2 separate regions of the Homo sapiens genome follow, and region 1 is linked to region 2. Evidence: fine-mapped expression QTL. A gene starts in region 2. The other region holds a variant in brackets. All regions are shown on one strand. Distances are from middle to middle. Region 1 holds the start of LOC105374076 (a long non-coding RNA gene). Region 2 holds the start of KALRN (kalirin RhoGEF kinase).

What was found. PIP is the estimated chance that this variant, and not a neighbour inherited with it, causes the effect.
Region 1: its variant is fine-mapped to the expression of KALRN in thyroid (GTEx, PIP above 0.99).

The regions. Positions count from the first base shown.
Region 1 is chr3:124,575,460-124,591,384 of GRCh38, reverse strand. All of the region lies in intron 34 of KALRN (kalirin RhoGEF kinase), which reads right to left. It overlaps LOC105374076 (a long non-coding RNA gene), which reads left to right and starts at 6,826. Exons shown (of 4, transcript XR_001740872.2): 1 at 6,826-6,911; 2 at 14,622-14,721. RefSeq lists a silencer at 6,423-6,602 and an enhancer at 13,397-13,686. The variant C/T (reference allele first, on the strand shown) is at 8,392.
Region 2 is chr3:124,025,864-124,041,788 of GRCh38, reverse strand. It overlaps KALRN (kalirin RhoGEF kinase), which reads right to left and starts at 8,420. Exons shown (of 60, transcript NM_001388419.1): 1 at 7,976-8,420. The coding sequence starts at 8,048. RefSeq lists a silencer at 8,445-8,904.

The DNA.
Region 1 (15,925 bases), 550 kb before region 2:
GAGAGGATTGCTTGTGTCCAGAAGTTCAAGACCGGCTTGGGCAACACAGTGAGGCCTTGTCTCAAAAAAAGAAAAGGAAAGAACAAGGACAAAAAAGGGCGGGGAAAAGGGACCTGAATTAAGTTGAACCAGAGAGAAAAACATGAACAGATATTAACTAAGAAAACGTGTACAAGCTGCTCTGGGAGAGAGAGATGTGATGGTGGTCTCTGACATCTTCAGTTTTGGGACAGAAGAGTCCCTTGAAAGCAGACCACATTTGAAAGCAGGTACATTTAATTCCAAATGGCTCCAGGCAGTGCATTCACCCCCAGAAACAACAGATCAACACAGTCAACACCCGATTTAGAGTTTGGGTACTATCTCTACCCTTCTCAGTTGGGTCAGTCCTGCCTCTGTTCAGACGAAGACAAGCCACATGCCCAGGAATGAAAAAGAGTTGAGGAAAGAATATCAGAAAAGGATGCTAGTTCTGATCCTGCTACTAAAAGGCTGGATCTCCATTTTCTCCTGTATAAAAGGAGTAGGAGGAATTAAATGATTCCTGGTGTTCCTTCTGGCTGTAGCTTTCCATGATTTAGTCCCTTCTGCTTGAGAAGACACCCTCAGGTTTCAGACCTCAGCCTTTTCCAGAGCCTTCCTTCAGGAAAAGCCTGGGGTTAGGTCTGAAGGAAGGGGCAGGATGTGCTACTCACTGAAAGAGTAGCACTTCAAAAAGATGGGCAATCACTTCTTGGCCTTTTGGCTAAGATCAAGTGCAAAAAGATGGGCAATGTTTTTAGGGTAGAAGAAAACAGTATGAAGATTCTTAAAAGGAATACCACAAAATAGAATATCAGCAACACTACTCCAGAAGGTATGCCCAGTGTTGTATGGGCTCAAGAGTAAAGTCCTCAACATTCAACTTGCTTTTTTATTTTTATTTTTAAAGTTATTTTGCATTAAAAAACAGATACAGAGTCATAATTTGCACCTTTTATTCCCAAGGTAGGATTTATGAACCTATACCCTATGGAACCATTGCCTACAGGATTATCAGTGATTGTTGGGCATGCAGCTGTACCACAGGAGGGATATTCAGCTTCAGTTTCCAAACTCCACCTCACCCCACCACCTTCATACACCCCCATTTCTACCATGCTGTGGTTTGACTGGCAGTCAGTACTGTTATCCAGATACTAATTGATACTGTATCTAGGTAATAAATGATACACCTATCACCATTCAGTAGATTAGATAATCAGACATGGAAAGAGAAGCATAGGATTCGGGTTGAAGACAGTAAATATGTGTGCTACTTCTTCCCAGGTTGAGTATATCCCTGGTTGATTCTGCTGAGACATTTAATTTAAAAAAAAGAAAAAAAGAAAAAAGAAAGATAGAAATAGAGTACATCCCTGGGAGGCAAAGAAAACCAAGAGACATATCGCAAAAGCATACAGTAGGCCCTGTGTATCCACAGGTTCTACATCCTCAGATTCACCAAACTCTGACAAAAAATACTGTATTTGTGGGATGCGAAACCCATGGGCACAGAGGTCTGACTTTTTGTATCTGAAGATTCAATAAGGCCGACTATGGGACTTGAACATCCTTAAAGTTTGGTACCCGCAGGGGTTCCTGGAACCAATCCCCTGTGGCTACTGAGGGACAACTGTATATGCTAAATAATCAATTCAGTTTCCATCATGGTAAAGGCATTTCCTAGAAGATGAAGAAATAAAAGGATACACATCAAGGCCCCAAGGATTTTATCCCCTGGATGGTGAATTTTTATTTTTGTTTATTTTTTGGAAACAGGGTCTCACTCTGTCACCCAGGCTGAGTGCAGTGGTGCCATCATAGTTCACTGCAAACTTGAATTCATGGGCTCAACCGATCCTCCCACCTCAACCTCCCGAGTAGCTGGGACTACAGGTGCATGTCACTACACCCAGCTAATATTTTAATTTGTAGAGATGGGATCTCCCTATGTTGCTCAGGCTGGTCTTGATCTCCTGGGCTCACACAGTCCTCCTGCCTTGGCCTTCCAAAGTGCTGGGATTACAGTGGATGGTGAATTAAAGTCAACAACAGTGAATGTCATAATGGTTCCTTTTTGCAGTTACCAACACCTTTGTAAAGGAACTTGGTGTCACGGTTTCACATATTAAACTCCATTTATCAAATGGGCTATATTAATTTAAGGACCAAGGAAGAGATATTTACGTCAAGTCATAAGGTTTCTGGCTGAGAATTCTGGAACAAAGTAGGATAAGACAAAGTTATAGATAAAAATGCCTTTGGATGCCCTGTGAATCCCCATACACTTACCCAAAGCCCATGACATCAGAGACAAGCAGGAAGGACTACCCAAGTAAAGAAAGAATCATAGAAACCAATCCCTGCACCTCCCCAGTGAAGTGATTCAGTTTGGGTAAGTCCCACCTCCTTCCTCTCTTTACCTCTGAGATGTTCAGGTGGCTGGACTATCTCAGTCTAAATGTGAAGACACAATGGCACGTGGGCTTGGGATGCAAGGACAATGATACAGCAATAAACAAGTATAAATAAATCCCATGCACACTGTGGAGGATGGTAATCAGGAAAAGCTTTCAAAAGGGGACTTTTGTCCACATACCTAAAGCTAATGAAAGTTGACTAGAAACTTAAGTCTCTTGGTTGGGCACGGTGACTCACACCTGTAATCCCAGTACTTTGGGAGGCCGAGGGGAGTGGATCACTTGAGGTCAGGAGTTCAAGACCAGCCTAGACAAAATGGTGAAACCCCGTCTCTACTGAAAATACAAAAAATTAGCCGGGCATGGTGGTGCACGCCTGTAGTCCCAGCTATTCAGGAGGCTGACGCATGAGAATTGCTTGAACCTGGGAGGCAGAGGTTGCAGTGAGCCAAGATTGTCCCACTGCACTCCAGCCTGGGCGACAGAGCGAGACTCCATCTCAAAACAAAATTAAGTCTCTAAAACTGGCTTCTACCTAGAAAGGTCAGAAAAATCTCTGGGCTCCTTGATCACAAATTCCAGTGCAATACATAACTTAGCAATTTCCAGGTGATTTGAAATCTTTTCTGAACTGACCCACTTTTTCAGGCTTGAAGGACAGTCTAGCTAGTCAAAGCTATCCCAAAACTAACTCCCCACAGAGTGTGACATCAATGATTTATCACCCCTTAGACACATGCATGCCATTATCTCACTTTTGGTTGTTTTTCACCTTCAAAAAGGCAGTTATAAATGCATTTGCCTTCTTTCTTCCTTCTTACCCGATATCTATTTCCTTTCTATCCTTGGTTTTCAGTTTTCCTGCCTTTCAACACCAGTTTCAAGATAGGGAAGAAAAATCATCTTTCATCAAACCTGCTTTCTGTACTCATACTCAATAGAACCAAAAAGGCTAAGTGCAGTGGTTCACGCCTGTAATCCCAGCATTTTGGGAGGCTGAGGCAGTAGGATCACTTGAGCCCAGAAGTTTGAGACCAGCCTGGCAACATAGTGAGACCTTGTCTCTACAAAAAATAAAAATATTAGCCTGGGGTAGTGGCATGCACCTATGGTCCCAGCCACTTGGGAGGCTGAGGTGGGAGCCCAGGAGATCCTGGTTGTGGTGAACCATGATCAAACCACTACACTCCAGCCTGGGCAACAGAGTGAGACCCTGTATCAAAAAAAAAAAAAAAAAAAAAAAAAGTGGAGGGTGGGGGTGGAGGGAAAAATACAAGATAGTCGCTTTCCATACTCTTCCAAATCAAAAGATAAGTTCAGTGAAATTCATCCATATTTTCCTCAAATGTGATATTTAAAGACCACACAGGTACTTTATCTAAATCCTTGACTCTGACCCTAGTGATGACAATTACAACCACTCAGAATTCACCAGAGAAATCCCAATGTAGCTCACTTAGCTTCAAGTCAAAAATAGCCAAAACATTCCACTTCCTCTTGGTTCTTTTACTTTTGTCCTTTTCCTCAGACTTTAGAAGGAGGTATCCTTTAAATCCTGCATGACTGGAAGTCAGATGGTCAAGTCCCCTTGCCTTGGGAACCACAGCAGTGGGCTCTGAGTCATTGCTTCAGAGTCAAGCTACTCAAGCCGCAGGAGACAGCCAAGTTCTCCCTGAGAGAGAAGGGATAGAGACCAAACAACCGGCCGCCTTTATCTACAAGGTGGAGTGTGGAGGTTGCCTTTCCATTGTATTTTCCCTAAGACCAGAGGAACTGGTTCAACTGAAAAGGGAGGCAGTCAGTCCCCTGCAGTGCACACCCTCCACTTGAGAGACAGCCTCAAGACTCTCCCCTCAGCCCTTTTGGGTGTTGCAATTGGGCAAGCCTCTTCCCAAAGAGTCCACGGACTCTGGGCCATGCACTCAGGCTCAATACAGACCTTATCTTTTCAATCTGTTTTCAAATTGATGCCTACAGGCTGAGTGGAGACTGTTTTCGGTTAGAGTGAGCCTGAGGGAGCCTCAGGGCATGCCCAACACCTCAGACACGACCCCCAGCCTAGCCACAGGCAGGAGTTTTCTTTGGAGAGTGGCTAACTCACCTCCCCCACCATCGTCCTCTGATGAGCCCGTTTTTCATCTTCACACATTTCAGATCTAGGGGAGTGAGGAGTAAAGCAGGAGAAGGCCCCGGGCACCCACCTTGCCACCCTTCTTTTCCCTTTTAAACTGGTCTCATTGCTTGGACCTCTGACTCCCTCAGTCTTCATCTGAGGGTCGCTAGCCTTTTCAGCTCCCGCTCCTACGATAGCCACTCGCACGCCTCCTCTCCTAGCCACGGAGCCAGCAGCCACTGCCTTCACAGGCCCTAGGCAGGAGGCACTTACCAGGCCCTGGAGCCAGCTCCCCAGCCCTCCCCTGCATCACAGCGAGAGTGAAAGTCGGGCAATTCCTCAACAAAGCAAGGGCCAGCAAGACGCCCAGAGAGTTACCCTGAAGGGCAGCCAGGGCTGTCACACATCTGGACTCAAGGAGGCAGCTGTGGGGACTTCAGATAAGCACCACCCCAGCCCCCACATTCTGTCTGACAGGAAACGGACTCCCAAGAAATCCTGCAGAGAAACTCTTTGCGGGGAAAGCAGGGCAGCCTTCGAGCGAACCCACCCACTCAGATTCCCCTTGGCCATTTCCTGCTTCCTCCGCGCTTTATTCCCCCTTTCCCTCAATTCCCAGCCTTGGTTTTGAATGTTTCTGAATCAGACTTAGAGGGTCCCTGGCCCCTCACATTCCTTCTTCATCTGAATTCTGGTTTCTAGAGCTCAAAACCACACGGTTCCAGGCTGCTCTAATTAAATACAGAGATTGAGACCATCTGATGCTAAGATTATGACCTTAATGACGCGCAGGAAAAGTCATTCAGATTTAATTAGTTTTGGTAACCTTATATCTGCTCAGGATAGAAAATTTCTCAGGGCTATGTTGTGTGTTTGTGGCACAGAGGATGCTGAAAGGTGGCTTGGATGAAGTTTATTCACCAGTAACTCAGCCAGAAAGTTCCATTAGGATTTTGCATAGCAGATGGGATGGGAGACTGGGTGGGGTATTGTAAATGGGGGTGGAGGCCAGAGGCCCAAAAGGTGAAACTTTTTAAAAGGGCAAATGTCAAGTAGGGGGCTACATTCTCATTTCTACCCACACAAAAACAGTCTTCCCCCGCTATCCTAGCGTGTGTTAAAGTGACATGAACAGCCTTAGGAGCATCTGCTTATCCTATTTGGGAAGGTTCTGATTTTTTTTTTCAGAAGAAGCCACACAATTGAGAACCCTCCCTCTGTGATCCTTCTCGCCCTCCTGTTCGCCGGCTGCTTTGGGGGAAATTGGTTGCTTCCTGCAAGTCTCTTCCACGACGTTAAGATTAGCAGAATAATTAAATACAGTCCTAACTGGGCACAGAGAGAGTTGTTAATTAATGAGCCAAGCTCCGGCCCGGAGCTACAAATCCACGCTGGCCTGTGAAAACCCAGGCAGAAAAAAATGTGCTCCAGTCCCACGAGAAAATTGTCACTTGGCAAAAATAGTTCCTGGTGTACAGACAGGTGTCAAACACATTCCTGTAGCCAGGAGTCACACGTTAATCCCGCAGCTGAGATCCATGTGTAAATGAGAGGTGAGGTACTTCTCCGCCACTATAGGGACACACGCGGCTCTGCGTCCCCTTCCCACCCCCGCGTCCGCATCCCACTCCCTAGCAGGCTGGCGCCCTGACATCCAAAGTCGCTGCTAGGTGACTGAGTTCCCAAACAGCAGCTCCGCATCCAAGTCAGAACCTCACCGCCAGCCAGCGAGCGCGCGCGTTCTGTCTGGGAAACTGTGAAACGGATCGCAGCAAACTCTCTCACTTCGCCGCCCTCCTGATCCCCAGCCCCATCCGCCTACCCCAGAGGCCTCCCCAACCCTTCCCTCCCTACCACCCTCCCTCGCGCTGAGCGCGACCAGTCTGGCTAACAGAAGGCACCAAGGCCGCCGACAGCCACTCACCTCTACACGGGAAGCAACAGCAGCACTTAGCAAAGAGCCACCCCAAAGAGGGACCTCGGGTGTAAGCCCTGTCGCCGCCCTTCATGTTGCCCCGCCGCCCCAGCGCTCCCGCATGGCACGGGGCGCCAGCCCGGGGTGAGAGCGCGGCGGGAAGGAAACTTCAGCGCCGCCGCCCGAGAGCCGGCTCCCGCCCTCCCCGCTGTGCTCTCCCCGCACCGCGGCCGCAGCTCTGACTTACTGGGAGCCACTGCCACCTTGGGAAGCGGGGAGGGGCCAGGCGGGGAGGGAGGGCCTAAGGGGCGGAGTTCCAAGGTCCAGCTGTGGGCAGGAGACCTGGCCAGCAGCGGCCGGAGCCTCATGTAACGCTGCCTGTGGCACCAACGCTGTGGGCACGGGGCAAACGGGTGGAGTTTGAGCCCTTGGCACCAAACAGGTAGGTACTCCTTATGTGCAACTTCCTCCCTTCAAAGGCCACCACAATGGGCGTTGGCTTAAAAAATACAACTAGATGGGGCCAAAGAGGTAAGAGAGGGGCAGACTTAGATGCTCCAAGACTCAAGGATGCCCTTTTCTTCCTCGCAGCCTCACCCGTTCCCTCCCCACAGCCTCCTCTGTATTGAAAACACCGTCCCCAACCCTTTCCTTTCCTTCCGTGTAATGCTGATTACTAATAATGATAACAGTGCCTCATATTGATCAGCTCTCCAACTGTAATGACGTGAAAACACACTCTGGGTTTGGAATCATACAACCAACCTTCAAAGCTCAGTTTTGCCACCTGCTAGCTGTTTGAACTTAGGCAAGTCACTTCACCTTTTATCTTCAGTTTCCCCATTTAAAAAAAAAATGTAAAAGAATTCCTATATTCCACGGTTGTAGATTTTCTTTAAAAAATTTTCTTTAATAGAGGCAGGGTCTCGGGTCTTGCTATGTTGCCCCAGCTAGTCTTGAACTCCTGGGCTCAAGTGATCCTCCTGCCTTAGCCTCCCAAAACATTAGGATTAGAGATGTGAGCCACCACATACAGCCGATGGTAGAATTTAAAAATATCTATGGATGTCTCCCAGAGTTGCTGATTTAGTAGGTAGGAGGTGGGGCCCGAGAATTTGCATTGCTACAAGTTCCCAGGTGATGCTGATGTTGGTATAGGACCACACTGAGACCTACTTGAGATTCAGACTTTTTCCTTGCCTATTTGGCAACTGTCCCCTTTTCTTTTTGTAACAGCCCCTTGACTTGTCTTTGAGGAACCAGTCCTCCTCCCTTCTCAGGCCATGTTTCTGGGCTAACATCCTGTTACAGAGGTGAAGTTTAATATTTCCAGGTGAATGAATGCCTACAGAGAAACTTCGAACATCTTACTTACGGTGCAAGACTTCCATTCACCATCCCCTCGGCCCAATATGCCCAGTAGACCTATCATTCCTTTACTTATATCCCTATCCCTATCTTTTAAATCTTTTTCATGTTTCAAGGCCAAGCTTGCTTTCCACAACCCCCTTGAAGCCCACTTGGACCACATCAGTGGGACCTTTCCATGAACCACTGTATTACTCACAGGGTGTCTCTCCCATTCCTTTGTGTCCAGCTTTAGGGCAAAGGGCCTGCTGGAAACACACAACACTCATAAAGAGGGCCCATTCATCAGAAAAAAGGGAAGTTTGTGGGAGGAATGAAAAACAGAAGCTTGATCACCCAGGTAACCAATGCCTTCCTGGAAGAAACACACTCATGGGACAAGGCTTTTAAAAGTTACCAGGATTTGGGGCTTCCTTTCCCAGTTGGAACCATGCTTAGATTTGTGCTTTATTTATCTATGTGACAGCCAGGCATGGTTGCTCATGCCTGTAATCCCAGCACTTTGAGAGGCCAAGGCAGATCACTTGAGCCCAGGAGTTCAAGACCAGCCTGAA[C/T]GATGCAGGGAGGCCCTGTCTCTACAAATAATAAAAATAAATGAATAAGTACATAAATGAGCGGTGCTTGGTGGACCATACCTGTGGTCCCAGTTACTTGGCAGGCTGAGGTGGAAGGATCACTTGAGCCTGGGGATGTCAAGCCTGCAGTGACTCATGATTGTGCTGCTGCACTCCAGCCTGGGCAACAGAGTGAGACCCCATCCCCCCCAGCTCAACCCCCCCAAAAAAAATGTGCCAAGGCATCTGCCACATGGTTGGGATACCAGTAAATGATCGAAGCATGACCTAATGAGTAATAATAGCTTACATTTATTGAGCATTTATATGCTAAGCAGTTTCCTCCATGTTCTCCATATACTATCTCATTTATCCTCATAAAAAAACCTTGTAAAGTAGTGTCCTGTTTTACCTTTGAAGAAACTGAATTAATAAACTATGATGAGGCTTTAATGGTTTAATTCTAAAGAAAAGCTCTAAAAAGCTTCACCCCTTTGGAACAGTAGAACATAAAGTCAAAAATCTACCCTCTAGTTCTGCTACTGCCATCTCCCTGATGGTTTCTCTTGGCAAGGTTTACATAAGAACGTCACTGTCAAGCAGGAAATGAATCTCTGGTGCTCTTTCTAACACATACAAAAACAGAGAAATTACAGTTCAAATTGCTCATGTTGGCTGGGCGCAGTGGCTCACGCTTGTAATCCCAGCACTTTGGGAGGCCAAGGTGGGCGGATCACCTGAGGTCAGGACTTCAAGACTAGCCTGGCCAACATGGTGAAACCCCATCTCTACTAAAAATACAAAAATTAACTGGGCATGGTGATGCATGTCTGTAATCCCCACTATTCGGGAGGCTGAGGCAGGAGAATTGCTTGAACCCGGAAGGCGGAGGTTGCAGTGAGCGGAGATCGCACCATTGCACTCCAGCCTGGGCAACAGAGTGAGACTCTGTCTCAAAAAAAAAAAAAAAAAAAATAGCTCATGTTGTCTGCACCCAAGATTCCTGATTCACTGACCATCCTGATAATTGGTCAGTCTCATTTTGCCAGACTGAATTACTGCAGGATCCTTAATCCTCACATAGTTATCCTGGGTTCCAGTTCTGACCCACAACAACCAGCACTATTATTTAGTTCTCTCTTCCATGTCACCAAAGACAATACCTATTTTGTTTTTCTTGCAAGCCCAGACCAAAACTGTCTGTAAAAATTAACTTTATTTGCTTGTGATCCATAGTATGGATGCTATGGTCCAAGGTTCAATATTTGGTTTACCCACCCAATCCCTCTCTTTTTACACTTTGGGGGCATTATGATGGGAATTCAAAGATGCTTCAAAATTTCATGGGGAATAACCAGTTTGTTTTTTACTCAAATCTTCCCTCTTGGTTTTTGTGTTCAGATAACACTGGATCACTTTTTTGTCACAATTCTTTGCAAGAGACTAATGACATCTCATCCTGCTGAAACTGGCTTGAGTTACATGTTTGAGAAAGACCCAACTCTTACTTTAGAAATCAAATACCAGTAGACCCTAAAGTAGTCCACTATAGGCAAAATGGATCCACTGGGCATGTTTCCACCGATACTTTTTTTTTTTTTTGAGCAGAGTCTCACTCTGTCACCCAGGCTAGAGCGCAGTGGCACGATCTCGGCTCACTGCAACCTCTGCCTCCCGGGTTCAAGCAATTCTCCTGCATCAGCCTCTGGAGTAGCTGGGAATACAGACGTGCACCACCATGCACATCTAAGTTTTGGGATTACAGGCGTGAGCCACCATACCCAGCCTCTACTAATTCTTATAACCCAGGAATTCATCCTACTCTCAATTTAAAGGCATAAAACCATTAGGAACCTCTTCCTATCTTAAGTTGGCAAGGTCAACACATTTTTGGCCATCATGGAGATTCATTCTAGGGTTAGACACCAATAACCCAAGAGTCCCATTGCCATCCTTACATGCCTTCCAGAATGAGACTAGCCAATGTCTATAACCTAACAAGGAAATCCTTTCCTTTCCTTTATTATTATTATTATTATTATTATTTTAATAGAGACAGGGTTTTGCCATGTTCCCTGGGCTGGTCTTGAACTCCTGGGCTCAAGCGATCTGCCCCCCTCGGCCTCCCAAAGTGCTGGGATTACAGGTGTGAGCCACCACACCTGGCCATCAAGGAAATCTCAAACAACATGGGGACACTAACTGTTTGTGGACCTACTCGTTAATTCATCAAATACTTACTGAGTGCCTACTCTGTGTCAGGCTCTGTTCTAGGTACTGGGTCTACATTGGTGAACAAAAACAATTTCAGTCCTTCTGAAGCTAGCTACTAGGACAGACTCATCATGAATGTGAGAGAAAAGTGAATCCACATCAGATATGTGACCAGGTTTATTAGTTGAGAGGGTTAATAGATGCCTAGATTCTCCAGCCTGCATCCAGATGTTTTAAGTTAATATTCTCAAGACAATTTAGAAGGGATGGTGGAGAATATGATTTTAAAACATTGGTGCTGATAAGAATCAGGAGGGAAGCATTTAAAAATATTAGGCATTAGCATTTTTTAGGCTCTGAGGTGGAACCAAGTCTGAGGCCATTGCTGCCTGAGTCCCCCCTCCCCACCCACCCCCACACACACCCTGAGATTTAGATCAATTGACTTTGGGTGCAACTGGGCGCAAGTATTTTAAAAGTTCCCCAGGTGTCTGTAATACGCAGCATAGTTTGAAAACCACTGGTGCAGTGCGGTGGTTCTCAAACTCAAGTATACATCAGAATCACCTGGAGGGTGTGTTAAAACACAGATTATTAGGCTCCATTCCCAGAGCTGCTGATTTAGTAGGTCTGGGGTGGGGCCTGAGAATTTGCATTGCTATGAGTTCCCAGGTGATGCTGATGTTGTTGGTACAGAAACACATGGAGACCTACTCGAGATTCGGACATTGTCCTTGCCCATTTGGCATTTGTGCCCTCTTCTTTTTGTAACAGCACCTTGACTTGTCTTTGAGGAACCAGCCTTCCTCCCTTTGGAGACCATGTTTCTGGGTGTGGCTGACATCTTCCCCTTGTCCACCCTCTACTCCAAAGATAAGCCCATGACCTGGGTGTGGCCAGGCAGCCACAGGGATTGGTTCAGATTTAGCACATGACTCGAGTTTATGCAATGAGCATAAACCTTGTGATCTTAGCAAGAACATCTGAGAAAACAGCCATCCCTTTCAACAAGATTTCTAAGTTGATGGAATGTTAGCCTAAAGCAGCTGGGGGTATTTTGCTATAACAATGTGGGAAGAAGCTCTCCGAGAATGAAGCCAATACAGGGAAAAGATGAGAGAGAGAGGTAGGTTTCCCATGATATCATTTGAATAGCTAGAGAGGCTTCTTCCTAAAGCTTTATTCCTGGACCTTACTTGTGCCCGCCCCTCGCTTATACATTCCTTTTTGTGTAAGCCAGTTGAATGTCTATTATTTCAGGGTTTTCACATACCTACCCACCCACTCCCAAAGTTCAGGCTAAAAGCTCCTGAGCTATAAGCAATATATTTAAAGTAGTCTTACTTTTCAACTAGATGGCTGAGTCTCATTTATATTTTTGGCAGACTTTGTCTTCAGTGATACCTGCAGCCTAAGTCCATTTTACATGAATAAGGCTTTCTGCCTACCTACGTGACCACTTTATGTCCCACCCTCATTTCCAACAACAGTGAACCCCAAAGAATTTCTGGTATCAGCCTGCAGATGTAGTAGGCCAGGTGTACCACAATGTCAGGCCTGACATCAGGCACCAGTGTGACTGCCTCTCCCTCCACATTAACCACAGTCTTCAGTAACACTGGACCATGACCTCAGGTACCTGTCTCTTACACTAACAGACATATGCCATTTTTTTTTCCTTTAGGGTTATTCTCTTCAGATGGACAGGAAAAGAATTTTACTAAATCACAATCATTTCCCCACATTTCTTAAAGCTCAGGATAGAGAAAGAAGGAACAGCAACCATGCCCCAATTCAGGCCTAGAGATTCATAGGAGACCCTTCTTACTGTGACCTTTTATAGAGCATAGGCTTGGTGAGCCGTGATCATGGTTCCTGGTGAGTGCAGAGGCCAGGCCCTGATCTCCTTAACTCCACTCCAACCATTCCCTTGCTCTCCTTTCCCCACAGGGGTGATTCTCACCTGTAGCACTCACCCCCATATTTGGATTCTATAGGTTTTTTTTTTTTTTTAAATGGAGTTTCACTCTGTCACCCAGGCTGGAGTGCAGGGGCACATCTTGGCTCACTGCAATCTCCACCTCCCAGGTTCAAGTGATTCTCCTGCCTCAGCCTCCCGAGTACCTGGGACTACAGGCAAGCGTCACCAAGCCCGGCCAATCTATGGGTTTTAAAAAGCTCTGCAGAGGATTTCAATGTGAAGTCATGGCTGAGAACCACGGACTTTAGGGCCCAAGGCCACTCACACTGTGGATGAGTTCCTGCATTGTAGAGTTTAGGAAACACTTGAACACAAATGGTTTTACTTTCTCAAACTCTGACAATCGGTCCCTTGACCCATTCTTCCACTGCCTGCCATGCTCCCTGGTTGCTAACTGCAGGTTCCTTAATTCTCATCTTCCCTGTGTAGATTTCTGATCTATGAACTGCCTGATTGCTGATATCGGGATGGCTAATCAATATTCCCAAATTACCAAGCCCTGGCCTCCATTTGTGGCTGTGGCCTAAACATCTAAGATTCTTTCCAAGTACTAATCATTTATTCAACAAATAATTGGTCTTGGAATATTTACTATTTGTAAGTCACTAAGCTAACCTATACATGGGAGTTTATAAGGAAAATGTAAATTAAATAAGGCCTGTTCCATGAGAAAAGACAAAGAAGAACAGGGTGAATTCTAGCAGAAGTTGGTTTAATTTTCTGTGGAAGAAAAAAGAAATGGAAACAGAATAGTACTGGACATAAGGTTGGGGTTTCTTCTTTATGTGAAAAAGAGGAATTGAGACAATAGTCATCAGTAACCAGAAACACTTCAATTAGAGAGAGGAGGTACAATGTGTACATTGCTTCTATATTTAATTTGAACTCCAAATATGGTGGGGGGTTTTGTTTGTTTGTTTGTTTGTTTGTTTTGTTTTGGAGGTAGGGTCTTGCTCTGTCATCCAGGCTGAAGTGCAGTGGCATAATCAGAGCTCACTGTAACCTCAAAATCATGGGCTCCCACCTCAGTCTCTCAAGTAGCTGGGACTACAGGCATGCATCACCACACCTGCCTATAGAGATGGGGTCTCACTACATTGCCCAGGCTGGTCTTGAACTCTTGGCCTCAAGCAATCATCCTACCTCAGCCTCCCAAAGTGCTGAGACTACAGGCATGACCCACTGTGTCCAGCCCAAATATGTTTTTTTTCAAAAGTGTATAATATCTGTGTGGGTAACCATTCCCAGGTAATATGCGTTATTTTAACAGTAAGGTGTACAGAAAAAGTGTGCTTGCCAGAATCACGCATAGTAATCTCTTCTCCTTCTTATCTCTGTTTAGTGTGGTCTAACCACTGCACCACTGCTGGCCCTGTGGGTACCATCATCCACTTGGTGACAGACAGCTCCTGGACTCTAATGACTGAACCATTACTGAGCTCAGTCCATATGTCTTCACCTACTGACCTTTAAATGTGTTCCTCTGTACTTGCCCAATTGACACCTGTTTGCCTCTTTCTAGCTGTCTCACTTATCCTTAAGAGAGGCCCCAGCTCAGCCTGCAGCCACCCTCTTTTTTTTTTTTCCAGGAAGTATTACTGATCACTGTCTTGTCTGAACCAGGTTCAAGGTAGGGGGGTGGTTCAGGCCATACTGAGAGGACACAGATGTCTCCCCAGAATGGCCAACATTCCTCTTCTGTGAGGACAGAGAGGAAGAACTGCTGGCAACAAGGACAGGTTCCTGGATATCTGTACTGAGCAGCCGCCTGAGCTGGCCTGAGCTCAGGGGCAGATGAGCTATTTATCAAAGTGAAAGATGGCTGCAGCTGGAATTGCTAAAAACAAACCACTCCAGGTTTTATCTACTTCCAAAAACGTTTACCTCTAAGTAGGTCAAAGTGTTCCCAAAGTAGGGCAGTATAAGAGTGCCAGTCTATCACTCTGAGTTTCAATTAAGGTAAACTTATGATTGCTAAGTGTCCACTATGTGGGATGGCATTTTAATTCTGCCAACGCCACCTTCCCTCCTACAGGCACAAATAGCAGCTGCAGCAGCATGTACATTCACGGAGTACAGTGCAGAGGTTTCTGATGAGTCAAATGGAAAGTGGATTTTGTCTTGATGTAACTCAGGTGAGTTTATTGAGGATTTCCAATAATAGAAAGGATGTACATCTGCCAATAATGGAATGTGGATAATGACCTGCTCATCCTTCAACCAGTCCAAATAAATGAGAGGTACTTAACCCATACGTCCCCAGAGAAGACTTCCTCAATCAGGACTCCTAGCATCAGAACATGATTCCCCATTCCCATCCTGAAGTCCTCCTGCTAAAGCTTAAGCCAGTTTCCTTTACCGTTCTACATGCTGAGCCTGGTCCTTCACATAAGAACTCTGCAGAGGTCCCTGATGCATGATCCGTCCCTCCTTTCTATAAATATTTACTGAGAACTTCTTACATGGCAGCTACTGTTTTAGATGCTGGGGATAGGGCAATGAACACAGTAGACAAAATCCCTGTATTGGTAGGGGGGATTTGCAGAGGAATATTAACAAATATGTCAGGTAGTGATAAATGCAATGAAGAAAAGTAAAACAGAGAAGGGAGTATACACTGTGATGGGAGAGGGTGGGAGTTAGGGAAGACCTCTCTAATCAGGTGACATTCAAGCAGAAGGAAGTGTGACAGCAAGACATCCAAGTCTCTGAGGATCTGGGGTATCTGGTGTGTTCCAAGCAGAGGGAACAAAAGATCAGGCCCTGAGGTGAGCGTATGCATGGCTTGATTGGTAATGGCTCAGTGAGGCAGGCTGGTCAGGTGAATGGTAGACAGAATAACGTCCGCCAAAGATGTCCACATCCTCCTCTCCAGAACCTATAAATATGTTACCTTATATGGCAAAAGAGACTGTGCAAATGTGATTCTGTTAGGGACCTCGAGGCAAGGGGATTATGCTGGATCATTCTGGTGAGGACAGTGTAATGGTGGGTGTTCTTAAAAGCAGAGAACCTTTCCCACTGTGGCCCAGGGGAAACATTACCATGGAAGGAGGATCAGAAAGATGCAACATTGCTGGCTTTGAAGATGGAGAAAGTGTGGTGGTCTCTGGAAGCTGGAAGAGGCAAGAAATAGCTTTTCCCTAACAGCCTACAAAAAGGAATGTGGCCCTGATTGCTGAAACTGTGATTTTAGCCCATGGGGACTCATGTTGCATTTCCAACCCACAGAACTGTACGATAATGAGTTTGTGTTGTTGTTTGAAGCCACCATGTTCATGGTAATTTGTTACAGCAGCAACAGGAAATGAATACATAGGAGATGAAGTCAGAGAATAG
Region 2 (15,925 bases):
TTCCTAGTTATTTTCGCTGCCAGTCATTCATACACAAAGGAGTGGCAGGAGGACTCTGAACTTTCCTCTGCATCCAGAGAAAAGGCAGGAAGGACCTGATTCTCTGTGCACACCTGAGATTCAGCAGAAGTAAGAAGCAAGGACCTTCTCCACATGGATCGAGCCACGTGCCCCATGACCCAGACAGGGACTGCCATTCTTCTACTTATGCAGAGGAGGAGAAAAAAGGGGTCCCCTGACCTGCTGTAAAAGGGTGCCCCATCCAGTCCCCTTGGGAAACCAAAATGAGAAGAACTGCATCTCTTCCTGGACTGGAAAGGTCCCATGGAAATCAGATTAAATCAGATAATACTTGTCAGAAGAGGCACTTAGAGTAATAGAATGTTCAATTTGGAAAGATCTACATATATTCGGATAGTATTGTACAACTTTTCAGATACAGTATCTTATTTGAGTCTCTCAGCAGCTCTATAAGGGAAGGGTTGGGGCGGGGGGCTATTATCCTCATCTTACACAGATGTTAAAGTCATTTGTCCAAGTTATTCATGTAAGTAGAGAGCAAAATGGAGTGTTTACCTCCTGCTCTATTGTCTGACCTTCTCAGCCTCCTTCATAGACTTTTCCCTCCCCTTTTAACCCCTTATATCCAAGTGCTCCCAGAGGGGGTATATTTATTTCCATTTCCATTCCTGTTCTACATTCTTTTTTTAATGGCTTTATATACTCCCATAGCATGCGTGGTACATGACTATAGTAAACACTTGATAAATATTTTTCAAACAAATGATTAAATGAATGAATGAAAGAGAGCCAAGGCCCAAAACCTAGCCTTCTGATGCCACACACAGGATCCCTGCACTGCATCATGTTGCCTCTCTGGCACCCTCTTGCATCCCATGTCAAAAGTCCTGCCTAGCATGCCTTCAAGAGACCTTCAGCCTCTGTCCATCACATTCAATTAATAATTAAAACAGCAGGAACAACAGGGATAACTAGGATTTCTTGTGCTTCTAGTGTGTCAGAGACCACTAGATGCTCCATACATGTTTTTTCCTACTTAATACTCTCAACCTGTGAAACAAGCTTTATCAGTCCCATTTTGCAGAAGATGAGGATGAGAGATATTAAATAATTAATGCAAGATCCTATCCCTAGTTAGTGCTGAACCTATTCCATCCAAAGCCTGTCATCCTCTGGCTATACCAGCGTTTCTCCATCTCAGCATTACTGACATTTTGGAGCTGGATAATTATTTGTTGTCCTGTGCATTGTAAGATGCTTAGCAGCACCCTTGACCTCTACCCACTAGATGCCAGTAGCAAACCCTCCCTAAGTTATGACACCAAAAAAATGTCTCCAGGCATTGCTAAATGTTCTATGATGGGGGGTGGGAGGGGAGAATTGCCCTTGTTGAGAACCACTGGGCTATACCATACTGACCACCTCCAGCAGTAAACTATCAAATACCAGAACCAGAGAAAACTTTGAAAAGTAAAAAGTGTTCATTTCCAACATCTAAGAAGAACCTCTAGTTCACCCCTTATAGTGTTTTATTGATTTTATTTATAGTCAGGAAGATTTTCTTACTTCTCAGCTAATTTCTTTCTGTAGCTTCAGTTTATTCTAAAACCTCCTTTCATCCCTCAAGGGATTATCAAATACGACTGGACAGTATGTACCAGTAATAAAGTTATTGGTGATTTGTGGCACAAGGATGAAGCAAAGCTTACCAAATCTTACAGAGGTGGACCTGGATGTCACTGATATGTACTAAAATATATTAATAGTAGAAATAGCCTATAAAAATATAGCATTAGAAATATTAACAACATTCCCTCTCCAGAACCACAAAGTCTTCCCAATACTCCCCCAAAGGCTCCTGAAAAATGATGTGACCAAAAGCCCAGTTCATAATGGGTGAAAGTGGAGGAGATCAAGAAGGGACAACAAGCATTAAATTAAGCATCGTGTTTACACTCTGGAGCATCAAGCATAACTTAAAAAAAAAAAGAGATGTTTTCCTTTGCTGCAAAAGAAAGCTCAGGAAGTAAGAGACTCCTCCCTTTTTAGGTACCTGGCAATGTACAGACTGGGCGGTGACATTTACTCAAGGAATTGCATACCAACATAGATTGTTATTCCCAAATCTCCCTTCTATATGATCTGGACATGACAATAGTTTAAGGTTCCCTGCCTAGATGTGATGGGGTTATTATTTAAGAAAAAAGTTTAAGAAATCATACAGTGAATATAAACAAACCATCACTTAGATTCAATAGCTGCTTATATTTTGCCATGTTTGATTTATATTGTGAGGGGGTGTTTTTTGATTAATCACAAGCTTTTAAAAAGATCCTTTTTCTTACCTCCAAAGAACAAATAACTTCAATGGGGGAGACAAGCCTTCATGTATGGAAAGGCTAAATAACAATACAATACTAATGAAGTGAGAAAATGAGTACAGACAGTGAGTAATTCAAAGGGCTGTCATCGTGAGCTGTGAAAGCTCCCAGAAGAAGGCAGGGATCAAGTCTTAAAGACTGTGTTGGATTTGGAGGGTGCCGGGGTGGTTGATCCAAGGAGACTGTGAATGCAGGAGCCCTTGGGCAGTGTGTGGAGAGCAGCCTGGCTGGAGTTGAGCTGTGAGGCCGACACTTGACCCTGAAGGCACTAGGGGGTTACTGAAGGTTCAAGCACCAAGCAGTGGTGTGATGAAAGTAGTGCTTTAGGAAGTTTAATGTGTCTGCAGGTCCAATTTGGAGTGGGGCTAAGTGAACAGCTTCCAAGGGATGAGAATGAGGGCCAGGAAAGGAGTCCATGGGGGCATATGGGGCCTGGCCTGGGGCCATGCCCTGTGAATGAGCAGCAAGAGCTAACTATGAAAGATAATTCAACAGGGTTTGTTGGAGGAAAGAGAGTCCTCACAGACAATGCCAAGGTTTTAAATATCATGACTGGGAGAGTGAAGGTGTCACTTATAGAATTAAGAAAGTCAAGAGGAAGAGCTAGTTTGGGGAGTTGGAAAGATATACAGAGTTGAGTCTGAGATTGGCTGAAGCCCAAGTAACTGCAAACACTTCAGTTGAAAATGTCTAGATTCACAGAACCAATGCTCAACAGAAGGACAGAGGTAGAAAATATCTCCACATCACTCTTTTCATTTATCTTCTTACTTTTTTTCCTTTGCACCTTAAAGAAAAAGGTTTCTCTGCTGCTTACCAAAGCTAAACTCTTACTTTTGTTAGGGAACCTATTCTTATCTCATTTCTTCAGGTATCAAACTCTACACTCGTTCTAGCCTCCTCAATTTTTCCTCTCCACACATTCTCTCCCTGCCACCTCCAAACCTGCTGTGACTCTAACAAAAAACAAAAATTCCTTTTCTGGATACTAACGTCCCTTCTGGCTAAGCACACACCTCTTTTTCCTTTCACTGATAAACTCTGCAAGTAGCTGATTCCCACTCACCACCCCAAATCCCTCCTCTGAACACCTCTTCTAATCCTGTGCTCCTGGAGTGCACAGGGTCTTTCTTTCATCATGCCCCAGCACTCCTCCTGCTCAACCTGTCTGCAGCCTGTCATCACATCAGAGCCCACACTGACTCCCTGGGGTCTCTAGGATCAAGTCTCCTCTGCTGCCACTTCTGCAATAAGAATTTCTACCCCAAAATCTAACTTTCACCCTTCCCTTTCTTCCTCTACTCCTTCCCTCTGACAGCAGATGCATTCACAAAGCTTCGGCTGCATCCAACCTTCCAAATCAACATCAACAGCCCTAGCCTCCAGCCCATGCTCCTGTCTTGAGTCCCACATTTCCAACTGCTGACAAAACAACTCCATCTGGATTTCCCTGAGTCGCCCCCCCCATGCTTCATGTCCAAAGCTAACAACATTATCTGCCCTGCAAAACCAGGTCCTGTCTTCAACCAGCCCACACCTGTCCATCAGTCAGACACTGTCAGTCCTCTAGGCTCCTCAACCCAGCTACTTCATTTTCCTCATGGGCTTCATTTTCCTCTCCCCCATCACTAGATTATCAACAAGTCCCCACACTTATACCTCTAAAAATGTGTCTCAATGGCATCCCTGACTCCCCATCCTTTCTGCCACCAACCCAGACCAAAGCTCCTCCCCCTCACCTCCAGATCACTTTTGCATCTCCCTAGATTCTACCCTTCTCTTCTCCACTTATTAAATCATATTATCCCAGATTAACCTTTCCAAACACCACATTTTTCATGATGTGTCATTGTTCAAGAATCCATAATGACTCCCTACTGCCCCAGAATCAAATCCAATCTCCACTCTTGTGCTTTCAAGACTCTCCCTATTTGACCCTGCCCCACTTCTCCAATCCTGTTTCCCATTCCTCACTAACCTACATCTTCCTCTATGTCAGCCCAGGCTCTTCAATGCCCAAACTCCCATGTGCCACTGCCCATTCTTCATTCATCCTTCAAGGACCACCCGAAGTTCCACCTCCTCTGTAGTTCTGCCAACTTTTTAACTTATAGCACCACAACGCTTAGCAATAAATCTCTAATTGAACAGTAAATGTCAATCTTCTTCAGAAGTTCTTTGAGGACAGAGACCACTTCGAATATTTCTTTTGTGTTCCACAGCACCGTGGACAGCAGAAGCCTCTAGGGATAATTGAAAAGTTGTTTTTGATTGCTGGTCAATTGGTTTCTGGTCCCAGTTATCAGTTCCCATAACTCCCCTCCTCTGCCTCATAACTATGATCAATAAAATTACTGTAACACACTTTCTCAGGCTTGGAACAGAGAATTCCCAAGAAGACAATCTGGAGTCTACCAATCTAGAATAGTAGGCTGGGTAGGGTGGGATGTCTGTGTCCATGTGCACACAGGGAAGTGAGATTTAGGGAATCTAGCTTAACCAATTGGTCAAGGGATTGAAACACCAAAATGATCAGAAGAGGACAAACAAGGAACCAAAATGACAGAATAATTTGAAACATGCCTAATTAGAAGCACAGTATGCCAGAATTTTGACAAAGCAATTTCCAGTTTGGTCCTTGTGCATACAAAATTTTCCATCAGAAAGAAAGGGGTAACCCTGGTGCTAGGGACTTTGAAAATTTGTTTGAAGCTTTCTCAGTTGTTCAATAGAATACATTTATAATCTATCCAGCCTATCAGGTATAGTGCTATATTCCACAGAGATGGGAAATCAGAAGGGAGAAGGTTTAGAAACATGGCTTTTCTAAGCTTAAGAATCTCCACCAACGCATATGCATATGTTCATTGCAGCACTGTTCACAATAGCAAAGACATGGAATCAACCTAAATGCCCATCAATGGCAGACTAGATAAAGAAAATGTGGTACATGTACATCATGGAATACTATGCAGCCATAAAAAAGAATAAGATCATGCCCTTTGCAGCAACATGGATGGAGGTGGAGGCTGTTATCTTAAGCAAACTAACGCAGGAACAAAAAACCAAATACTTCATGTTCTCACTTATAAGTGAGAGTTAAACAATGAAAACACATGGACACAAAGAGAGGAATAACAAACACCGGAGCCTACTTGAGGGTGGAAGGTGGGAGGACAGAGAAAATCAGAAAAAATACCTATCAGGTACTATGCTTATTACCAAGGTGATGAAATAATCTGTATACGAAACCCCTGTGACACACAGTTTATCTATATAACCCATACATGTACCCCTGAACCTAAAATAAAAATTAACAACAAAAAATAAAAATAAAAAGAAGAAGAAGAATCCCCAGCAAGAGCCTAGGCTAGAGACCAGAAGTGTGGTGACAGTCAGTGAGCCAAGCATAGAGGGCCACACAGGGTGGATGTAGTCCTTGACCTACCCCCTCTTGCAACATGTTACAGGTCATCAGTCATTTCCAGCCTCATGCACCAATGACTTAACCTTTCTCTGATACTAAGTGCACATCAGACTTAGCTCAGCCACTGGGCTGCCCAAGGAGGAGGGAGAATATCCCCAACATAGGAATCCCACAGGAGACTGACCCCAGTCTGCTATTTATTCTGTGATTTGAGCCAGGGTTAGATAATGTGTGCCACACCTTGTGTTTTGAAAGGCCCTGGGAAAAGTAACACATTGGACTATTATTGGCCATTAACACTGTGTGAATTTATTATCAGAAATAAGCAAGCCTCCAGGAACTGAGCTCTGCTACGGGTGCCTGGAACAGAAAATGAACAGGACCTAGTGTTTGGATGATAGGAAAGGGGAAAGAGGAGTGGGCACCAAAAGGTAAAAGTGGAGTCCAGAAAGGGAAGGTGGGAAGGCTCACACTTCAAGATTTTTCCCTCAGAGCTAAGAAAATGCAGACTTTTGCCCCAGTTGGGAGGCAAGGGGGGTCAGCTGGGTTTTTGATTGACTGGTCAATTTGTTTCTAGTCCCAGTTATGAATTCCCATATCTCCCCTCCTCTGCCTCATAATGAGTATTTCTGAATATCACTTAGCCCCCAGAACCACCTTTTCCCTAGATTCCACCTCTTTAGAATCCATGCTTTTGGGTGCTGGGCTGTGTGTGTATGAGAGAGAGAGAGAGAAGAAAGAAAATAGAATCCATGTCTCGGAAGAGGAAGGAGGGAAGGAAGGAGGAAGAAAGAAAAGGAAAGAAGGCTTAGACCTGGGAAGCAGAATAGAATGACAGGGCTCCCTCTGATTTCCCCAGACCCTGGCACCAGCTCCTGTCCTCCAGTTTTTTCCTCTGCACATCAACTAGAGAATGAACATATGAGCCAATCAAGTCTTGACTTCCAAAGCCACAAGTCTCCCCCGCAAAGCACCCCACCCCCTTCCCTAGAGATGACCTCCAGGGCAAGGTAACAGGGTTAGGAAACAGATGGATGTGCAGAGACCCTCCAGAGCTAACCTGACCCCTGACCCCCACCAGTTCATGTCCTCTAATCCAACTTTCCAGAAGGGAGAGCAGATGCATGGGGCCCCGGTAACTTACTGGACTCCTTGGGACAAAGATTCCAGACAAAACTGTTTCAGACATGTGGGGAGATGGGGAGCTACACACAGAAGCTGGTGGAAGCCACAGGTACAGGGAGACGGGGAATCCCTGGCCATCAGAGAAACAGGGCCACAGGTGGTGGAAGATAAGGGTGGTCAGTGCCGGTTCTAGGGAGGGACTGTGTAGCCAGGGAGCAGGAGGAGCAATGGACCCGGGACTTGGACGATGGCAGGGGCGCAAAGAGCTAGAAAGACATCTCAGGGCTCTACACCTCACAGCAAGCAGAGACTTAGTGGGTGTGTATGAGAGGGACGCTAACTCACACTTCCAGGAATGAGTAATTCTTATGAATAGCTCCTCCGTTCCCAGAACTGAAGAGGAGGACAAGGGGGAGGTCCGAGGCGCCCACCGCCCTCCCAGCTGGGTCTGCCTCTCAAGTCAGAGGGACCAGCTCCCCACACGCACCAGGCGAGACCGATGTCTTCCGCCCCACTCCTGTCAGTCTGCAGCCGGCGCGGCTCCGGGTCCCCGCCGCCCCTCTGTGCACATCAGGGCCCCGGGCCCCCGACGGCGAGGAGGGGTGCCGACCCAGGGCGGCCGCCGGGAGCCCCGCTGACAGGCACAGGGGAGGGGGAGCCAAGGGAGGGGCCGGGACGCCGGTAGCCGGAGCGGCGCGCTGCAAAGTGAGCCAACACCGCCCATCCCCGCGCTCTGGGAGAAGGCGGTCCGAGGGGACCGCCTCCCACCTCCCCAACACAGACTCCCGCAACTGGGGTGAAGGCGGAGGGGCGCGGAGTTCCCAGCCCCCACGCCCTCCCCAGACGCAGCCAGCACTGCCATAACAACCAGAATCTCGGCAACTCCAGCCCCGACGCCGAGGGGGCACTGCCCCCCAACACGCACGCGGCAGCAACAGCCCTCCTTCCCCAAACTTGTCCGAGACGCCGCGTCCGAGGCAGTAGCCTTCAGCCCTGGCCCCCCGCGCCCTGCCCGGCTTACCTGTCCGGAAAAAGGCGTCCACGTCCGAGTCTGCTGCTCCTCCTTCCTCCGCTGCTCCCTCAGGGGGGTTCATGACTGTGGGAGGGCGTCCGCGGGCAGCCGGGAGCCGAAGAAGCCTGGGGCCGAGGGCTGCTCGGCGCCCGGTGGGCGGAGGGCGCGGGGCGCAGCTGCTGCGGCCGCAGAGCTGGCGGCCGCGGAGCTTCGAGGGCGGGCGTTGGGCGGCGGGGCTGGGGCAGAGGACGCTGAGCCTCCCTCAGGCGGAGGCGCGCGGCGGGCTGGGGGTGCCTGCCGCCAGCTCCCCCATGGTACCCCTTCCCCAGGGCGCTGGCCGCCTGCTGTCTGGCTGGGGCCGGGGCCCGGGGCCGGGGTGCGGGCTGCCTGGGCGCCCGCTGTCCCCCAGCAGCGGCAGCTGGCTCTCCTGCTCGCCCGTCTGCCTGTCTCTATTGTTCAGCCCTGCTCCGCTCTCTCCTCTTTATTTTTCCTCCTCCCTCCCACCCTCCCTGTCTCCCTACCTCCTCCCTCCCTCGCTCACTCGCTCACTCGCTACCTCCCTCCTTCGCTCGCTCGCTCTCTAGCTCCCCCTCTGGCTCCCGCCGCCGCCGCCGCCGCAGCAGCCGCCTCCCCAGCTCCTCCCCCGGCTCCCGCTCCCTCAGTCCCGGCCAACAATGACCCCGGGAGCGCCGAGCTGAATTGAAGCTCCGGCCGGGGCCGAGGGCTCGCTGCGGGCCCCCGGCGGCGCCTACGCCCCCAGTCCCAGCGGCCCCGCGCCGGCCTCCCGGGGAGCGGAGCCCGAGTCCCGAGCTATTGTTCGAGGCTGTGCTAGGCCGGCTTCCTGAGCTCCGCAGGAAAAGCCCGGGCCAGGGAGGGGGCGGGGCCGCCGGGCGAGCCCGGGGCTGCAGGGCACACGCCAGGCTTGTCCAGGGGGCTCTGCGGCCCGGGCGCTGCGCGCTCAGCTTCTCCGCTCGCGCCGCCGGTGCTCCTCCCGGCCCCGCGGCCACCTCCTCCGTCCACTCCACTCCCAGGTGTGTGAGGGGACCACCAGGCTGCCCGCCCGCCTTCTCTGGATCTTCAGATCGGTCTCCAAGCTGGACTGACCTGTCCCTAGAGGCCGGCCTTTCTTCCCCTCCTTCCTGACGAGCTCTCTTCTGTCTCCCTGCCCTCCTGAGCCTCTCACATTTTCCTCACCAGCTCGCCACAGTTTCTCTCCTTTTTATCTTTTCTCGTCCTTTTCCCCTTTTCAGCGCCCCTTTAAACATCTCCGCCTGTCTCTGTGACTCTTTGTCCAGTTTAATGCTCCTGTGATGTCTCCCTGCCTATCTCTCCCTCCCTCCGTCACTCTCTTGTCCCTCGTTTGTCTCTGTCCTGCCTCCGTACTTGGCCCGTATCTCCGCGCTCCTCTTGGACAGCTGTCAAAACTCTCTAATCCCTGGGGCCTTCTCGGTTTTGTTCTCCCTCATGTGAATGGAGAGATCCAGTTGGCCAGGAGGAAGGAGGTGTTACAGCAAGCTGAATTTCAATTAAAGTGGGGAGAGGGGCTGGGGAGGAATGGGGATGGCTGCAAAAAAGAAAACAGATGCTGTATGGGGTAATTAATGCGGTGATTGTATTGTGCCCATCAGTTTTTAAGCAATAATTAAACAATAATTAGCCAGTAGTGTGTTTATGGTTCTAGTGACTACAGAGCCCACCAAACAGAGGGTCTTTAAGACCTGAGTACTTAATAAGGTCTGCTGAGCGCTGTTCGCTGTTGCCTCATCCAGACAGATGGAGAAGTGGTGGCCTGACCTAATGTGTTAAAACACGCCTAATAGGAAAACCAGGTACTGGTCTGAAGTTAATGACTGCAACCCATCAGACAGAATCTCCTGGATCTGTTTGTCTCTAGTAACCTGTTTGGTTCCACCTCTCTCTGGGGGCCAAGGCAACTGGGGCCTATGCAGATCCACCAACTGTGTAAACTTGTAGCAAATAAAATGAATTAAATTAGTTTTTAGTGAACACTTTCTGGCTCCCTGTACGCATCACGTTCTTCACTGACACAAACAGTCTAATTTTTTTTCACCCATTAAAAAAAAGTACCTGTTTCCAACCTTGGATACACCTATCAGACCTGTCTCCAACCTTGAGTACATCTATCAGACCTCTGTAGTGACTCTGACATCACAAGTTCACTGCCCTGAGATCTAATTCATCTGGCCCTAGTATCTTGAACTGGCTTAAGATGCCCCTTTGCCTATGCCTTTTCTGACAATGAAAATACTTCTCATTTGTCTTTTCAAAATCTTCCTTCCCCTTAATCCTTTGCCTAACCCCTGGTCTGCTCCCCTACCCCCGCACACACATATGTGATGGCAGAGCTGCTATTAATTAATTGCCACCATTGTGCAGCTAAAGAACCAGTGGCCTGGCAAGGCATTAGCTCATCACAATTCAGAAGAAACATTACATGTTTAGAGGAAGGGTCATATCAAAATCTCAAGATATAGACAAGAAAGGGGGAACACCTTATGTAATGACACAAACTTTTTTTGAGAGGAAATTTGGCAACTTCTATTAAAATGTTAAGTGTTCATGGCTATATTAATATCAAAGAAGACTTCAAAGCAAAGAATATTACCAGGGATAAAGAGGAACATTTCAATTCATCAAGCAGACGTAACAATCCTAAGAGTGTTTGCACCTAATAAGATAGCTTCAAAGTACATGAAGCAAAACTGATAGGATTGCAAGGAGAAATATAAAAATTTATAATTATAGTCAGATAATTTAATATCTGTAAAATGCAGTAATTAATAGAATAAGGAGACAGATCATCAGTAAAGATATGGAAGACTTGAACAATGTTATCAACCAACCTAACCTAACTGACATTTATAGAATATTCCACTCCATAACAGCAGATACACATTTTTTCAAATGCACAGGTAGCATTTGTCAAGATAAACCATACACTAAGCCATAAAACAAATCTCAATAAATTTAAAAGGATTAAAATCATGCAAAGAGGTACATAAATTATACCTAAGTTGGTTTTTAAAAAAAAATCAGAGTATGTTCTCTGACCACAATAGAATTAAACTAGAAATCAATAACAAAAAGAATCTAGAAAAACCTCCCAAATATTTGGAAAGTAAATAACACACTTCTAAATAACACATGAGCTACTAAGAATTCAAAGGATGGGCTGGGCACCATGGCTCATGCCTATAATTCTAACACTTTGTGAGGCTGAGGCCAGGGGATCACCTGAGGCCAGGAGTTCAAGACCAGACTGACCAACAGGGCAAAACCCATCTCTACTAAAAATACAAAAATTAGCCGGACATGGTAGCGTTTGCCTGCAATCCCAGCTACTCTGGTGGCTGAGGCATGAGAATCACTTGAACCCAGGAAGCAGAGGTTGCAGTGAGCCAAGATTGTGCCACTGCACTTTAGCCTGGGTGACACAGTGAGACTTTGTCCCCTGCCACCCCCACCAAAAAAAGAATTAAAAGGGGGATATTAGAAAGAATCTCAAAGTGAATAAAAATGAAAACACATTACATAAAAATCTGTGGGATGCAGCTAAGGCAGTCTAAATCTGTGGGATGCAGCTGAAGCAGAAAGACATTTATAGTGCTAAATACCTATTTTGAAAATAAAGATCTCCCATCAATAAGCTCCTATTCTACTGTAAGAGCAAACGAAATCAAAGTGGAAGAACAGAAATAAAAAAGATCAGAGCAGAAGGCAATAAAATAGCAGGAAAACAAAAGAAAAAAATCAATGAAACTAAAGTGGGTTCTTTAAGATCAATAAAATAAAAAAACCTCCACCCAGACTGATCAGAAAATAAGAGAAAAATCTCAAATTACTGCTAGCAGGAATGACAGAGGTAACATCACTACAAATTCTATAAATGTAAAAATAATAATAAGGGAATATTATGAACAACTTTATGCCAACAAATTTGACAACTTTCATAAGATGGACACAAACTACTAAAGTTCACTCAAGGAGAAATTGCTAACTTAAATAGCTATTTATCTACTATAGAAATTAAATTTGTAGCTTAAAAGCTTTCCCCACACACACCCACACACAAAACAACTCAAGATTCACATGGGTTTTTTGGTAAATTTATGAAACATTTAAGGAAGAAATAATATCAATTCCACAAAAACTCTTCCAGAAAAGTGAAAAGGAGGAAATATTTCCCAACTACTTCTATGAGGCCAGCATTACTCTGATGCCAAAACTAAACAAAGGCCATATAAGAAAAAAAATGTAGACTACTTCCTTAGGAATATTTATTAGGAATAAAATTTTTAATAAAATTTTAGCAAATAAAATCTACAATATATAAAAAGGATAATACATCATAACCAAGTGGGTTTATCCCACATATACAAGGTTGGTTTCACATTTGGAAAACTATTCAATGTAACTTACCACATGATATGGGTTGAATTGTATTCTCAAAAAAGGTATGTTAAAGTCCTAACCCCTGGTAGCTGTGAAAGTGGCCTTATTTGGAAATAAGGTGTTTGCAGATATAATCAAATTTGGAATGTGGTCACTAGGATGGACCCTAATCCAATATGACTGGTGTCCCGATAAGAAGAAAAAAAAATTCCATATGAAGACAGAGAAGACAGAGACACATAGGGAAAAATGCCATGTAATGGCAGAGGCAGAGATTGGAGTGACGCAGCAGCAAAGAATACCAAGAATTGACAGCCACCACCAGAAGCTAGAAAGAGGTAAAGAAAGATTCTCCCCAGAGTCTCAGAGGGAGCATGGCCATTCTAACACTTGATTTCAGACTTCTTCTCTTCAGAACTGTGACAGAATAAATGTCTATTATTTTAAGCTACCCAGTTTGCACTACTTCGTTACAGCAACCCTAGGAAACCAATATACCATATTTAAAAAGCAATACAAGTCCGAGTATGGTGGCTTACGCCCGTAATCCTAGCACTTTGGGAGACCAAGGTGGGCAAATCCCTTGATCCCAGGAGACTGAAACCAGCCTGGGCGACATGGCATAACCCATCTCTACAAAAAATACAAAAAGTAGCCGGACATGGTGGCATGAAAGTCAGATCATGTCTCAAAAAATAAAATAAAATTTAAATTTAAAAAAGCGATACCATGTGATCATCTAAGTAGATGCAGGAAAATAATTTGACAAAAATCCAATATCCATTTCTGAACAAAACTCTCAGCAAACTAGGAATAGAAGGGGCTCTCTTAACTTAATAAAGGACATCTACCAAAAATCTATAGTTAACAGCAAGCTTTTTCCCTAAGATCAGAAGAAGGTAAGATGTCTACTCTTACCCCTATTCAATGTACTGGATGTACAGTGCAATAAGAAAAAGAAATTAAAGGCACCCAGATTGAAGAGGAAGAGGTAAAACTGTCTGTATTCAAAGATGGTATGATTGCTACTTAGAAAATTCCATGAAATATATATTTCTTAAACTAGTAGATCTAATAACGAGTTTAGCCAGATTTCAGAGTATAAGACCAATATAAAAATTAAATTGTATTTCTATAACCTAACAATGAAGATTTAGAACTTGAAATTTTAAAACATCACTATAGTAGCATGGAAATAAAAATTTGAAGGCTTAGCCTGATTTTTAAAATATGTAAGACTCATACACTCAAAGATAAAATACATTGCTGAAGGAAATTAAAGAAGATCTAAGTAAATGGGGAGAAATACTGTGTCATGGAATTTTGCAAAGACTCAAAATCCTTAGGACATTAATTTTTCCCAAACTGATCTTAGATTCAATGAAATCCCAATAGGCTCTTTTGTAGAAATTTATAAGTTGATTTGATGAACAGAACCTAGAAAAGCCAAAACAACGAAAGAGAAGAGAGTTGGAGGACTTACACTACCCAATTTCAAGACATTTATGAGGCTATAGTAATCCAGACAATGTGGTATTGGTGTAAAGATAGACAAATAGATTGATGGACTAGAATGGGGTCCAGAAACAGACCCATATGTATATCATCAATTGCTATTGTTGATTTTCAATTATAAAAAAAATCAAAGGGAATTCAGTATAAAAATGGTAGTCTTTACAAATGGTGCTTGAACAATTGAAAAATCTGTATTAGTTTTCTATGACTGCTGTAAAAATTTACCACAAACTTCGTAGCTTAAAACCACACAATTGGCCGGGCTCGGTGGCTCACGCCTGTAATCCCAGCACTTTGGGAGGCCAAGGCGGGCGGATCACGAGGTCAGGAGATCGAGACCACGGTGAAACCCCGTCTCTACTAAAAATACAAAAAATTAGCCGGGCGCAGTGGCGGGCGCCTGTAGTCCCAGCTACTCGGGAGGCTGAGGCAGGAGAATGGCGTGAACCCGGAAGGCGGAGCTTGCAGTGAGCGGAGATCGCGCCACAGCACTCCCGCCTGGGCGACAGAACGAGACTCCGTCTCAAAAAAAAAAAAAAAAAAAAAAAAAAAACCACACAATTTTATTACCTTACAGCTCTAGAAGTCAGATGTCTGAAATGAGTCCCACTGGGCAAAAATCAAGATGTTAGCAGGGATGTGTCATTTCTGGAGGATCTAGGGGAGAATCCACTTCTTTACTTTTTCTAGCTTTTAGAGGACACCCGCATTTTTTAGCTTGTGTCTCCCTTCCTCCATCTCCAAACCAACAATGATGAGCCAAATCAGTCTCACACTGCCATCTCTCTGTGTCCAGAATATATAAACAACTCTCAGACCTTCATGATAAGAAAACAAACAACCCAACTTTTAAAATTGGGCAAAAGATTTGACTAGACACTCACTTTAGAGATATACAGACAGCAATAAGCATTTGAGATAATGCTCAATACTATTAGTCATGAGGAAAATGCAAACTAAAAGCTCAATGAGATGTGATGATTTATTGGAATGTCTAAAATTAAAACGCCTGAACATATCAAGTGCTGGTGAGGATGAGGAGAGGATGCAAAAACGGAACTCTCTTACACTTCGAATGCAAAATGGTACAATTACTTCAAAAAACAGTTTGGCAGTTTCTTAACTAGGTAAACATACACTTACCATGTGACACAGTCATTCCACTCTTGGTATTTACCCAAGAAAAATAAAAGCATATATCCATGTAAAGATTTGCACACAAATGTTCATAGCAACTTCATTTATAATAGCCAACACCAGGAAGTGATCCAAAAATCCATCAACAAGCAATCAGATAAACAAATTGTGATATATCTATACAATGGAATACTATGCAGGACTTGGATGAATCTCAGAATAATTATGGAGCGTGAAAGAGGTCAGACAACAGAGAGTATATTCTAGGTGATTCCATTTTTATAAAATTCTAGGAAATGCAAAGTAACCTATACTGACAGAAAGCAGATCAGTGATTGTCTGGAGATGACCAGAGTCGGAGACTGGGAGCTGAAGGGAGAGAGAGGGGAGTTATAAATGGGAACGGCATAACTTTTGGAGGCGATGGATATGTTCTTGACTGCAGTGATGGCTTTTATGGCTGTATGCTTATGTCAAAACTGATCAAATTGCACACTTTAAATACATGCAATTTGTCAAATGTCAATTATACCACAATAAAACTGTTTTAAAAATCAATTTTTTAAGTAAATGGGATAAAGCTACATGTGCTTACAAGGAAATACCAGTTATCTTGAGGGGACTTTTATAGTCCATAAAATATTTAAATTTTCATAATGTGGATTCTTTACAATGATGTGAGAGAGAGAGACAGGGAGAAAATCATCAGCTGGAGAAACTTTTTCCCATGATGCATAAGAATGCCAGAGTGGAGGAAGGAAGAGCTATGTTCAGGTCTATGTATTTAGAAACAGCTCCCAAGGCATCTTGACATACACCCCCTTTGCTCCGCCCCTACTCAGAGATTTAAAGGAAGGAAGGGACAGGATGGGATAAGATGGAAGAAGTGTTTTC